Linked DNA regions of Homo sapiens. The protein of the gene in region 1 binds, or shares a complex with, the protein of each later gene. Each region holds a gene or a part of one and is shown on either strand. Other genes may lie near its edges.

Region 1 (4,854 bases):
TTGGGCCAAGAAATAATCTAAGTGTCCTTCAATCTGTGTCCCTCATTGGTAAACTTTTTTGTGGGGGAATGGGTAGTGTTGGGATCATCCCAGCCTTAAGTAGACTGCAAAGGTAGTCATCTTCTCCTGCTGCAGTGTGAGTTCTCATCCCTCCCCCTTTATTACCTCCTCCCACAGTCACGCTTGTATCTTCATCTGAAGTTTAGAAATTGCTGCTTTGGTTGACTGCATGGTACTAACCAAAAAGTGCTGCTGCTGTAATTTCTAAAATTAAAAAGTTTATACACTTAGATTTTGGTAGTTTTTCTCAATTTTTCAAGGTGTACATGTCCTTTGTTTTGATTTAAATTGGCTCCGGTCTCTTCATGCTGCTGTGTTCGAGTCTCTGTATTAGTAATTTCATTCATGTTTGGTGGAGGATATTTGAGAAAAAAATTCTCAGAAGAGTAGCAAACTTTACTGATCCTAAAATCTAGTAGGTGAATAAAGGAAATGACAAATTTTTAATCAAAGTAAGCAATAATGACAGGTTTATTGAAAATTTCCAGTAGAGAAAACCCACTAGTTTTGGAATAAAAGTACTCAATGTACGAGAGCATAAGTGAATACAAAAGATTAACAGAAGGAAAATAAAACCAAACATAGTACAAAAAAATTTAAAAAGTTTGAAATGAATTCAAACTGGGATGTTCTTTAAATCCTCCAAATATTTAACAGAGTTACTAAGTTTGGCAAAAAATTCACTTGAAAATTAAAGCCTATTTCTGTACTGTAAACTCCGTAAAAACTGCTTATTAAATTCAAGCACTCCATATAACTGGTATTGAAACATGTAGGCAATTTCAGAATAGCAGGAATTATTCATTTGCTCTCACAGTTACATGAATTAACCAGCTGCAGAACTGCTTTTTGAAGAGTATGAGAAAAAAGAATGCCGAGAGAGAAAAAAATGATAAAAATCTCTAAAAAATGGAAACACAGCAAAATTCAGGTATCAGTTTGTTTCTTTAAAGCAACAAACTGAATTTTTACAGTATAGTCTACATTTGCAGTTGTCATTTCCCTCTTCCCCCCACCCACCTCAAATACTCCTAAATTCACTAGTCTAATCAATTCTTAACTTCCAAATACTCTGTACATACATATTTAGCAAAAAGCATATGCCTAGCATTATTCTGACAGCAAGTATGGTCAGCATACAATTTTAGAAAGATTATTATGTATATCATCAAGATTAACCTTTACTTAAACGAACAAAACCATCGCTAAACAAATAGTTTTAAAATATTATGAAAACCCATGAAAAGAAGACTCAACATGGGCTCTAAACCTGATAAAACACGTTTCAGAACAACTATTAATGCTAAACTTCTGCCCAACGATGACCTTAAAGTGCCAAACACCAAAGAATCTCTTAGGACCGTTTTCTAATAGACAATTTGTCCCTGGCTTGGCCATCTCTCCTTTAACTGTACACAAAGTCCTGCTAAAAGTCTGAATTTTAGTTGATTTTACAATAGAATGTTACAATGTAAACTAAACAGGTTCTTGATATCAACAGTATGTTACCAAGGTGTGTGTGTTTTTTTTTTTTTTTGTTTAAATTTCTGAATCCAACAGTTGGTCACAGAGGTCAAGTATTATCAAGGCTCCTTTGTCAGTTCTCAATCGTGTCTGACTCATCCATCCTTCAAGTACATGCAAGGCTCAATAGTTTTCCAGAGGCAGATGCCTGGGGCCATTTAAGATACAGATGAAATAGGATTATGAGGTGAACCCATTTGAGTAAGAACTTTATCCAGCCACTGGAGGGGGCCGTGCAGATGTATCTCAATCCAGCAGGGGGTGCTAGTAACATCCTGGCGGTGGTATTCTGCTCCCCAGCCCTAGGAAAAACATACTGGAGGTCATTTAACTTGTTTAACTCAGTGGTTAAACTTATTAAGTAAGAAGAGTTCACATAACCAAAGACTCTGATTAAAGCTATGCATCTTTCCTCCCTGACCCCCCCGCCCCTGGGGAGAAAAAAACACACATGCACAAACGCACGCATAATTTCGCAGGCAATTTCAAGGGATGGATGTTAGCTCCCCAGGGTCCATCCATGGATTCCAATAAGAATTGCTGGTCTTGAGGAATGAAGGTTTTAAAATACATTATAAAGTTATCTTAATAAAGACACTTTAAAACTTTTAATTGCCCATTACTGATAGTAATGTAATAGCTATTATTAAATTCTCATTTTATCATCAAGAAAATAAAACAAAAAAGCTATGCTAGACAGAATGACATTCAATTTCTTCCCTATTCAGCCACTGAAGGTCCCCCTATCAACACACAGCTCTTGATCTTTCAATCTCTGAGCAAAACGGGCAGGAGTACATTCAAGTATCCAAAAAGCTATTATTGACACCTAGCCATTGCCATGAATCAATACATTCTATCATTCATTTGTACAAGAAGGTAGCTTGGCAGAATTAGTGCATTAAGACAATACAGTTCCATAGAATAAAGTCACTATGAAAAAGAGAAAAGTAACTGCTACTGCAAAGATCAAAAACTCATTGGTGAGGGTGGACAATGAATGTGAAGTTCTGATTAATCCTTTAATCACTGTTTCATGAGGAATATCAGAGAAGGTTGGGTTCTATTTATTTCTGCTATCTATCTACTCCCGTAGTTTTAAGAAATACATCTGGGGCCAGGCGCGGTGGCTCACACCTGTAATCCCAGCACTTTGGGAGGCCGAGATGGACAGATCACCTGAGGTCGGGAGTTCGAAACCAGCCTGGCCAAAATGGTGAAACCCCGTCTCTACTAAAACGAGGTGTGGTGGTGTATCCCTGTAATCCCTGCTACTTGGGAGGCTCAGGCATGAGAATCACTTGAATCCAGGAGGCGGAAGTTGTTGTGAGTCAAGATCACGCCACTGCACTCTGGCGTCGGTGACAGAGAGAGACTCTGTCTCAGGCAGGTGATCACTTGGGGTCAGGAGTTTGAGATCAGCCTGGACAACATGGCAAAACTCTGTCTCTACTAAAAATATAGAAATTAGCTGGGTGCGGTGGCCACACGCCTGTAATCCCAGCATGCTTGGGAGGCTGAGGCAGGAGAATTGCTTGAAGCTGGGAGGCAGAGGTTGCAGTGAGCCGAGATCACACCATTGCACTCCAGCCTGGGCGACAGAGCGAGACTGTCTTAAGAAAAAAGAAAAAAAAGAAGAAAAAAGAAAATATATCTGAACATCAGAACTTGTATGAACTACATCTATGTAGATATATATATATCTACATAGATGTATGTACACTCATGCATTTGTAAATATAAACAAACTCCTAAAATTAATTTACAGGCTTATGTGCAGGTTTCCTCCATCAGATAGCAAGATCTTTGAAGGCAGGAATTTATCTTTACCTCCAATATACAGCATAATGACAGAAAGCAGAAGCTCTATAAATATGTGTTCAGCTGAGCTGACTTGGAATTTTCAGACATAGAATTTAAAGTACAAATAATTTATAAAATGTGTTTTATGTTAATATCCAAAAATGATCATTTTAAAAACAGCACAAGATTGGCTATTGTTAGTAAAATGTTCTAATTTCTTTAAAATGTTGAATGGGAGAGGACAAAGTATGCAGTCCTTATAATAAAGAACAGTTTTGTAAAAACAGTGTGCAAATTTTTTGTTGCTAACATATGATAAACAACTTTTCTTTAACATTCAGCAGGATTTTTAAATAATATTTACCTTCAGCTCTCCAAATCCAACTTCCAGGCTAAGTTCATTATATCTTGTATAACTCTCCATTCTAGTGCTTATCAGATTATAATTAAAGATATACTAGGGCATAAGGATCTTGATGATAAGAGACTTTAGGTGCTTTTTCATCTTTGTATTACTTCTCTGAAATAGTGCTAAAATATCTGCTGAATGAATGAAATCTAATAAATTTTGAATGCATAACTTTGCATTATAAATACCTTTTATTAGTGTAAAGGTTGTTTTTACTTGTGTAAAAGTAAATTATTAAAACTCTACAAAAGTAAAATAATTAAAATTGATTGGGTAAACAATAAGAAATGAGTTTGAGCAGAAAGCTAATTGGAACATTAAAGTAATAAATTCTCTTAGAGTGGTCCTTCAATAACAGACTCACTGAGGGACCTCAGTAATAATTACCACAGTTCTCAACTCCATCCACCCCCATTTCAAAGACGATAAACCTGAGAACCAGAGAAGAAATCTGTGCCTTAATCACACAGTTAAAATGGCAGAAAAAACTGGAAACCGCATCTCGACTCTCAAGAGCTGTTCTTTCCTCCATACCAATTAAAACAATAAACAAAAACACTTCTGGCAGGTCACTGTTCTTATTTTAAAAATCATTTGAGCCAAATGCTAAGTCAAAAATTAAACAGCACATGTTAACAATGAATAAGATAGTTCTTTGTAGTCCCATATGTACATAACATATAGGTTAACCTCTTTAAAGGGTAAAAAAATTTTCTTAATACTAACAAGGTACCAGACTCAACTACAAATAACTGTTGAAGTATACTGCAAAAAGCAAACAAGCAAACAAACAAACAAACACACAAAAACAAACACTAAGGGAACACACTGAAAATCTAAGATGCTTTAAATAAGTAGGAAAAGTAACTATATTCAGGAAAAGATATCTTTGATCTAAGGGATGATTAACAAGTAAGGCTCCAAAATTATCCTCAGTAATAAATACATTACAAAACAGGTTTAACAACAAGTTTGGTGAGCTTCTGAAGAGAAGACATAAAAGATAATTGCCTCACTCAAACATATAATTAGTTCTGTTTCTCAAAGTACGAGAGAAT
Region 2 (7,319 bases), on another chromosome or scaffold:
TATACAAGCAGAAAAAATTCTGCATTCAGACCCCAAAGATCTGAGTTCCAGTCTAAGTTGGCTAGTGTGACACTGAACAAGTATCTTAACTTCCATATGCCTGTTTTCTCCTTTATAAAATAGTTTTCATGATAGAAAAATGGATGTATATGAAAGAACTTACAGTCACCAGTTTGTGTTGTGAACAATAGTATTTACAACCTAGATTTGTACTATTCATAATCTTGCATAGTTTTTAAAATATTTTTAATTAGCATTAGAGTTTGATTATCAAAAAGTTAGAATTTCCTAGATTCACAAAGGTAAGGAAACTGGAAGGACTCAGTAGAGTCATTAATGCCTTAAAGTGATACACCTTTTTGAGTTTCCCATCAGAATAAGTATGATTTAGGAAATCATTAGGAGAAATAAAAGTCGAATTTACAGATGCAAAACACTTAGTTAAAAACTTATTTAAAACAAACAAAACTATAATAGTTTATGAATTTTAGAACTGCTGGATATAAATTCTTGTAAAAATTATTTACTAGAAGAAAAAGTACACTTCCCAGTTGTAATTCTTTGTGGCTGATGCCACAAAATGGGGGATCCAATCTATGTGTATTATACTTTGAAAACATACCGTGCAGTCTGTAGGGTGCATGCCAACATACATTTACCCACAATGAGTCCATAAACCCACTTCGAGGGGTAAGAGAAAAAAGCATACCTAAGACAAATTGAAGTGTTTAGGCAAGCAGCTAAATTGTTTTTCCTTCTTTCCTCCTCCTTAACCCGGGTTTTTGTCATCAGGTTAAGTGATTTTTTCTGAGTTCCAAAACCCTTTGGTCTCCGACAGGAGACTATACAACAGGCCTGCAAATAGGAGAGGGAATGGGAGTGGGGGCGGTAACTCTTCTTTCCACTCAAGTTACATCCCGAGTGGGCTAACTACATTGCAGTATTTGGAAAACCTATTAACTTTTGGGCAAAGTTCCTATGCTGAAGTTTAGCCTGAAGCAAGTTCTCAAAAAAAAAAAAAAAAAAAAAGAAGAAGAAATAAAAAAGAAAGAAAAAGAGAGAACCCTACACAAAACAAATCCACTGGGACCTATTGGAATGTTAACACTCATTATAAACAGTTTCACTTCTATGCTGAATCAAGTTGGCACAATAATCGAACATTGTGTATGTGGAATAGCAGCCATGTTCATATCCGCAATAAGAATTAAAAAGCAATGGCGATCCTAGAATTAGTCATCGCTTCCCAAACATTAACTTTTAATCACAGTTGAACTAGGCAGGACTTGGCCTATGAGTCAACCTGCAGTGTATTATCAAAGGCTTGTGTTAAAACCTCGGTACTGTAAAGCGCAACTCAGTTCCTGCGCAACGTACAGATGTGGCTAATTCAAAAGCGTTTCAGCCGACTGTAAATAATAGTCTACAACTGGGAAACCAACACGCGACCTACTAAGTTTGATAAGAGCAAGCCGGCCCAAGTTCCAACACACAAGGGAAGAGCAGGGGTGAAAGAACTCCATAAACAACTTCCAGGAAAGTCTGGGCAGGGGAAGCCCGAAACCTGTATTCCGAAATCGCCTGAGCCGCGAGGAAAATAAATGCTTACGGGAGGGGGAGGGGAAACGGGAGGGGGGAAGGAAAGAAAGAGCAAAAAACTAAATGGACCGGTTCTACCCCCACCTCTAATCAACACTGGAAAACAAGAGAACAATTATTTGACTCCCCCAGGAGACTGAAGTGGACCGAGAGGCCGCAAAGGAAAGGGGCCCAGGGCTCAACTTCACAAACTCGGCCGCCGCTGGCAACACACCCACACACAAATGCCAGAGGCCCCCCTCCCCCTTTCCCAGCCCGGCCCGGCGGGAGCGAAGGTGCGGAGCGCGCGGAGGCGCGCGCATTGTGCAAGCCCACCGCGGCCCAGGCCCGACTTTTCCCCACCCCCTTCCTTCCTCCCCACCCCTCCTCCACTCCCGCCAACCTCTCGGGAACCCCGGGAAGAAAGAAAGGAAGAAGGAGGGAAAGCACGCCCCCCGGGGCTGCAACCGCAGAGAGAAACTCAGAAGGGAAAAACAAATCTCAGCCCCGGACTCTGGGAGGAGTGGGGAGCTGGTCACCGCGGCGGAGTGGACGACTCCAGTTCCACTTCGCCTCGGGACCCCCACCCCAGCTAGAGTTCCCGCAACCCCCCTCCCCTGACCAGAGCTGGCGGCCGCGGCTCCCGAGCGCCCCCCCGGTCTGAGGCCCGCCCGACGGGGAAACGGGGAGAGGGGCAACGAGGTTACCTGTCGGGAGTGGGATTTGGGCTCCGGCGGCTTGAAGAAGGAGTCGGGCAGCTTCCGGAGCCTCATGGGCACGGTCTGGGGCACGTTGGCCGTCTTGGGGTTCATGACGGCGTTGAAGAGCGCCTCCAGGTCGGTCTCCGAGTCCCCGCGGACGTGCACGATCTGATGCCCGGCGGGGGGTGCCTGCGGCGCCGCCTGGGTCGCCGCGGGTGCCGGTTGCCCGGGTCCGGACGGCGGGCCCTGCCCCTGCGGGGGCTGCGAAGGCGGCTGCCCTTGGCCCTGGGGGGCCGGTTGAGGCGGCGGCTGCTGCCCGGGATCCATGGCTTCTGCCTCCCCCGACGCGCACCCCCTGACCCAGGCGAGCGAGGGCTACGCCCGGACGCCCCGGCTCCACGGGCCGAGGTGGAGAAGCGGCGACGGCTGCGGGCCGGGCGGCGCTGTCCTCGCTCTCAGGGCCGGGGGGCTGCGCCGCGGCCCCGCATCCCCCGCCCCGGCGCCTCCGCCCCCGCCCTGCGCCCCGGCTCCACTGGTCTGGCGGCTGCGCCTCGGGAGGGGCTGCGAGGCACTCGGACCTGCGGCGCCTGAGAACTTTTTCCCTCCAACTCCCTTGACGGAGGCCGGACAGCTCGTTGCCTTTCCCCGCCTCCCCTTTCTCTTTATTTCCTTTTCTTGTTCCTTCCTTCCTCCCTTTCTTTTCCCTGGCGGCGGCTGCGCCCGACTGAGACAGAAACTCGCCTCAAACGCCAAAACTAAAGTTAGGAGAAGCGCCCGCCCGCGCCGCCGCGGCCCCGCCTCCTCTCGGCTCTTCCTTCCTCTGCGCGCCCGCCCGCACCGCGGCCCGGCCGGCAGCGCAGGGAAACTTTTCGCTGCAAGTTGCTACATTCCTGCACACTCCCGGCCCGCGGCGCCTCTCCCGGCCGCACGTGACCCGCTCGCCCTGGCCCGGTCCGCCCTTCGCCCGCGCTCAGCCGGGCAGGGGCCCGAAGCGTGCCCCGTATTCTGCCCCGCGAACCGCAAACGATGGGTCCAATCCGGGTCCGAACTGTGGTGTCTGCGGAGAACGCGGGCGCCCTTGGCTGCAGGAAGTTCTTCCGCTCCGCTCGGCCCCTTTTCCCCGCCCGTGCTCGGGAAAGGCGCTTCCAGTTCGCCTGGACCTGCGAAAGGGCCAAGGCCGAAAGAAGTGGAGAGAGGATGTGCGAACCCACCTCCTCCTCCTCGCGTTACCCCGGCTTGACCGAGCGGAGCGCCTGTGCGAGCTTAAAGCCGCGAGGATAGATTGGAGTTAAAATAGATACCGTGAGCCGGCATTGATGTTAATAAAGATCCATTGTTTTCAGCATTAACTTTATTTTGTAATTGTTTCACTTATCTGTTAGTCTGCAAAAACTCACTTGAGAGGGGTAAACGGTTACTGTAATTGAAGCTTTGAGACCAGGTCTGTAACTCAGTGTAACTTATTAAAAGAAACAAAAACACTACATTTTCCAAATAGTGAAATCACATCAACTTTTTTAGTACTCGAATTTGCAATAGTCACTGGAAGCCGCAACCCAAAAAATTAGTGCGTCTTCAGGTACAAGCATTCATGCCTCTGTACCTGTCTTTCATCCTCAAGGAGCTGGGTCCCTACCCCTGCTATCCCTGTGCCTGGCCCAACGGTGGACTCCGTTAATGTGGACTGAATAAGAAATGAATGGGCAAGGAGGTCATCCCAGGCACCTGATGTACAAGGAGCCCTTCTGGAAGCCACTCAAAAACAATAGAAATGTTTTTTAAGTCATACACTCTGGGTTTTTTTTTTTTAAAGCATCCTTGTTGAGATATAATTTATATACCATACAGTTTTTGCAATAGTTGTACATATTAGTATATTTAAGCAATTCACTGTTTTTTTAAATATATTCATAGGATTGTGCAACATCAGTCTAATTTTAAATGCACAAGCCCATTCTAAGGAAATCTGGCTTTCTTGTTTTAATGATTTTGTCTACAATGCTAGTGAAACAAAGGTATAAGTAGGATTAAGCAAGGAAAAAGTCCGTGAGCAAAAAGGTAATTTCTTCCTTCAGCCAGAACATGCCCAGGAGAATTCTGAAGGATCTGTATCACTTGGTGTGGTAGGGCTCGGCCAAAGGAGCAGGCCTCAGACACTCAAAATTCTAACAGAAGATTCCAATCAACTACTCTGAACCCCCAGTTTCCTGTCTGAAAAAAAGGATCAGAGTAAATGACACCCATGACTAGTTCTTGGATTTGTTCCCACTCCTAAATGTCAAGTGCATTTAACGACAGACTTGCAGGTTCTGGAGTTACAGAGTTTTGAGTTCAGGTCCCAGTTCTGCCATTTACTAGCTGTGAGGTTTTGGACAAGTTATTTATTTCCTGTTCTTTAATATTAGCATCAGGGGTAATAACACCTACCTCATAGTTGTTGGGGCATTAAATGAGTCAATGGATATAAAGTACTTAGCCCAGTTTGGGACGTGCAGTGAGTTCCACATCAATGTCAGTTGTCATTGTTGTCCCATGTTCACAGATTATTTCACAGGTAGTAACATAGCCTCTCCTTGCAGCAGCCCTCTCTTTCTAAGCACAGCCTCAGGGACCCTGTTGGTAGTCCCTTCCTCTCTTATCCAATAATCAGTCCACACAAACAAAACCTTTGGGCAGAAACTATGCATTAAAAACTTTACCTGAAAGAAAACTTTAGGAACCAAAGTGGGCCGGGTGCGGTGGTTCATGCCTGTAGTCCCAGCACTTTGGGAGGCCAAGGCAGGGGAATCACCTGAGGTCAGAAGTTCGAGACCAGTCTGGCCAAAATGGTGATACCCTGTCTCTACAAAAAAAAAAATACATAAAAATTAGCCAGGTGTGGTGGCATGTTCCTGTAGTCCCAGCTACTCAGGTGGCTGAGGCATGAGAATCACTTGAACCCAGGAGGTGGAGGTTGCAGTGAGCTGAGATCACACCACTGCACTCCAGCCTGGGCAACACAGCGAGACTCTGTCTCAAAAAAAGAACCAAAGTGATTGAAAACCTGGGATTGGAATAGAAGCTGTCCCTTTACTAGAGCATTTACTGCTATGAACACTAACTAAAGGGCTTCAGATACAGCAGAGGCTGCTTTGTTCAATATTGTTTCACCTGCCATTAAACTGAGGACAAAATTACTTTGATAAGTGGAGTGAAAGGGTCTTTGGAGTGACTATGTTCTGTAAGCACTTCTGTATCATCAACCAAGATTTTGTAATTTACTATTCCTCGTTTATACAATTTCAACCACGGTGTAGTAGGGGATAAAGATAACATATTCAGTCCTTTGTCTACTCCCTTCCTCTTCTGCCCATTTTGTGGACCAATTATCTGTTGGCAGCATCTTAAAATAGGGAGTCACCTTCTTCGTATAAAGATGCACCCTTATCCTGGATCATTTTCAATGTCCAGGTAGATCACTATCTCAAAACATGCGTATCCCAATTAGTTGACCTGTCAACTAAAATGGACCCTCATCTCTACTTCACTTTAGCCACCTGCCCCTTCGTCTGTACTCTGCATCATCCAGAAATACTCCAGTAGTGAAGTCAGACTATGGTATACCATATTCTTAATAATCATCTGGTTCTCTTATTTCATTACTCACATCTCATTTATCCTTAACCTCTCCCTTTTCTGCAACCTATCACTCCCTTCCCTTTTCATTTCTGTTATGGTTTGGGTGTTTCTGTCTCTCCAAAATTCATGTTGAAACGTCTCCAGTGCATCAGTATTAAAGAGGTGGGGCCTTTAAGGAGGTGATTAGGTCACGAAGGTTCCTCCCTCCTAAATGGGATTAAGAACTTTATACAAGAGGCTTCACACAGCATTCAGCTGTTTTGCCCTTTCATCTGTCTGCTGTGTGAGGACACAGCCTTCATCCCTTTAAGAGGATGCAGCAACAAGGCACCATCTTGGAAGTAGAAAGCAGCTGTCATGAGACAGCAAACCTGTTGCTGCCTTGATCTTGGACTTCCCAACCTCCGGAACTGTGAGAAATAAAATTCTAGTATTTATAAATTATCCAGTATGTGGTATTTTTTATAGCAGCACAAACAGACTAAGATAACATCCTTGCCATTCAGTTTGGAAATCGTAATTCATTGTTTAAACTTCCCATGCCAGGCATGATGGCTTATGCCTATAATCCCAGCACTTTGGGAGGATGAGGTGGGTGGATCATCTGAGGTCAGGAGTTCAAGACCAACGTGGCAAAACCCTGTCTCTACTAAAAATACAAAAATTAGCCGGGCATGGTGGCACATGCCTGTAATCCCAGCTATTTGGTAGGCTGAGGCAGGAGAATCACTTGTATCCAGGAGGCGGAGGTCACAGTGAGCCGAGATTGTGCCATTGCACTCCAGCCTGGGCGAAAGAGCGAAACTCCATCTCAAAAAACAATAATAATAATAAATAAATTTCTCACAATTATCTAAATCTTCAATCCCGTTCTCTCATGGATTTTAATGAACCGAATCTGTTATACTGTTTTAATCCAGTTATCTGTGTTTTATTCCAACGCCTAAGCTTATAGGGCCTAGCCCCACATTCATGAGAAGCTTCAATCAAAGCTTTTAACATTTTGTCCAAATAAGGTTACACTACCTTCCCAAATATATGCCTACACTATACAAGGAGGCATTCTTTGTAGAACTTTAAACTTTGTCTCATCACCAAATGACACTATCTATAATGCATTATGAATTAATAGTTTAAGTAGGCCAAGTGTGGTGGTGCACACCTGTGGTCCCACCACTTTGGGTTGCCAAGGGGGGTGGATCACCTGAAGTCAGGAGTTTGCGACCAGCCTGACTAATGTGGTAAAACCCTATCTCTACTAAATACAAAAAAATTAGACGGGCGTGGTGGCACATGCCTGTAATCCAAGCTACTTGGGAGGCTGAGACAGGAGAATCACTTGTACCTGGGAGGCAGAGGTTGCAGTGAGCCAAGATGGAGCCATTGCACTCCAGCCTGGGCAACAAGAGCAAAACTCCATCT

What was found. Proteins that work in one complex are often made in the same cells at the same time.
Region 2: the proteins of SMAD1 (region 1) and YAP1 are in contact, whole or in part, in an NMR structure (PDB 2LAW), measured with the Homo sapiens proteins. Residues at the interface, in NP_001003688.1 of Homo sapiens: Thr222, Pro223, Pro224, Pro225, Ala226, Tyr227, Leu228, Pro229, Pro230, Glu231, Asp232, Pro233; in NP_001123617.1 of Homo sapiens: Glu237, Ala239, Met240, Thr241, Tyr247, Ile249, Asn250, His251, Lys254, Thr255, Thr256, Trp258.

What each region holds. Positions count from the first base shown.
Region 1 is NC_000004.12:145,554,823-145,559,676, reverse strand, and holds the end of SMAD1 (mothers against decapentaplegic homolog 1), read right to left. Parts: intron 1,887-4,854; coding exon 1,743-1,886; 3' UTR 501-1,742; downstream 1-500. UniProt on the Homo sapiens protein: Transcriptional modulator that plays a role in various cellular processes, including embryonic development, cell differentiation, and tissue homeostasis.
Region 2 is NC_000011.10:102,106,136-102,113,454, reverse strand, and holds the start of YAP1 (transcriptional coactivator YAP1), read right to left. Parts: upstream 3,009-7,319; 5' UTR 2,607-3,008; coding exon 2,286-2,606; intron 1,907-2,285; exon of another isoform or gene 1,684-1,906; intron 1,008-1,683; exon of another isoform or gene 710-1,007; intron 1-709. UniProt on the Homo sapiens protein: Transcriptional regulator with dual roles as a coactivator and corepressor. Critical downstream regulatory target in the Hippo signaling pathway, crucial for organ size control and tumor suppression by restricting proliferation and promoting apoptosis.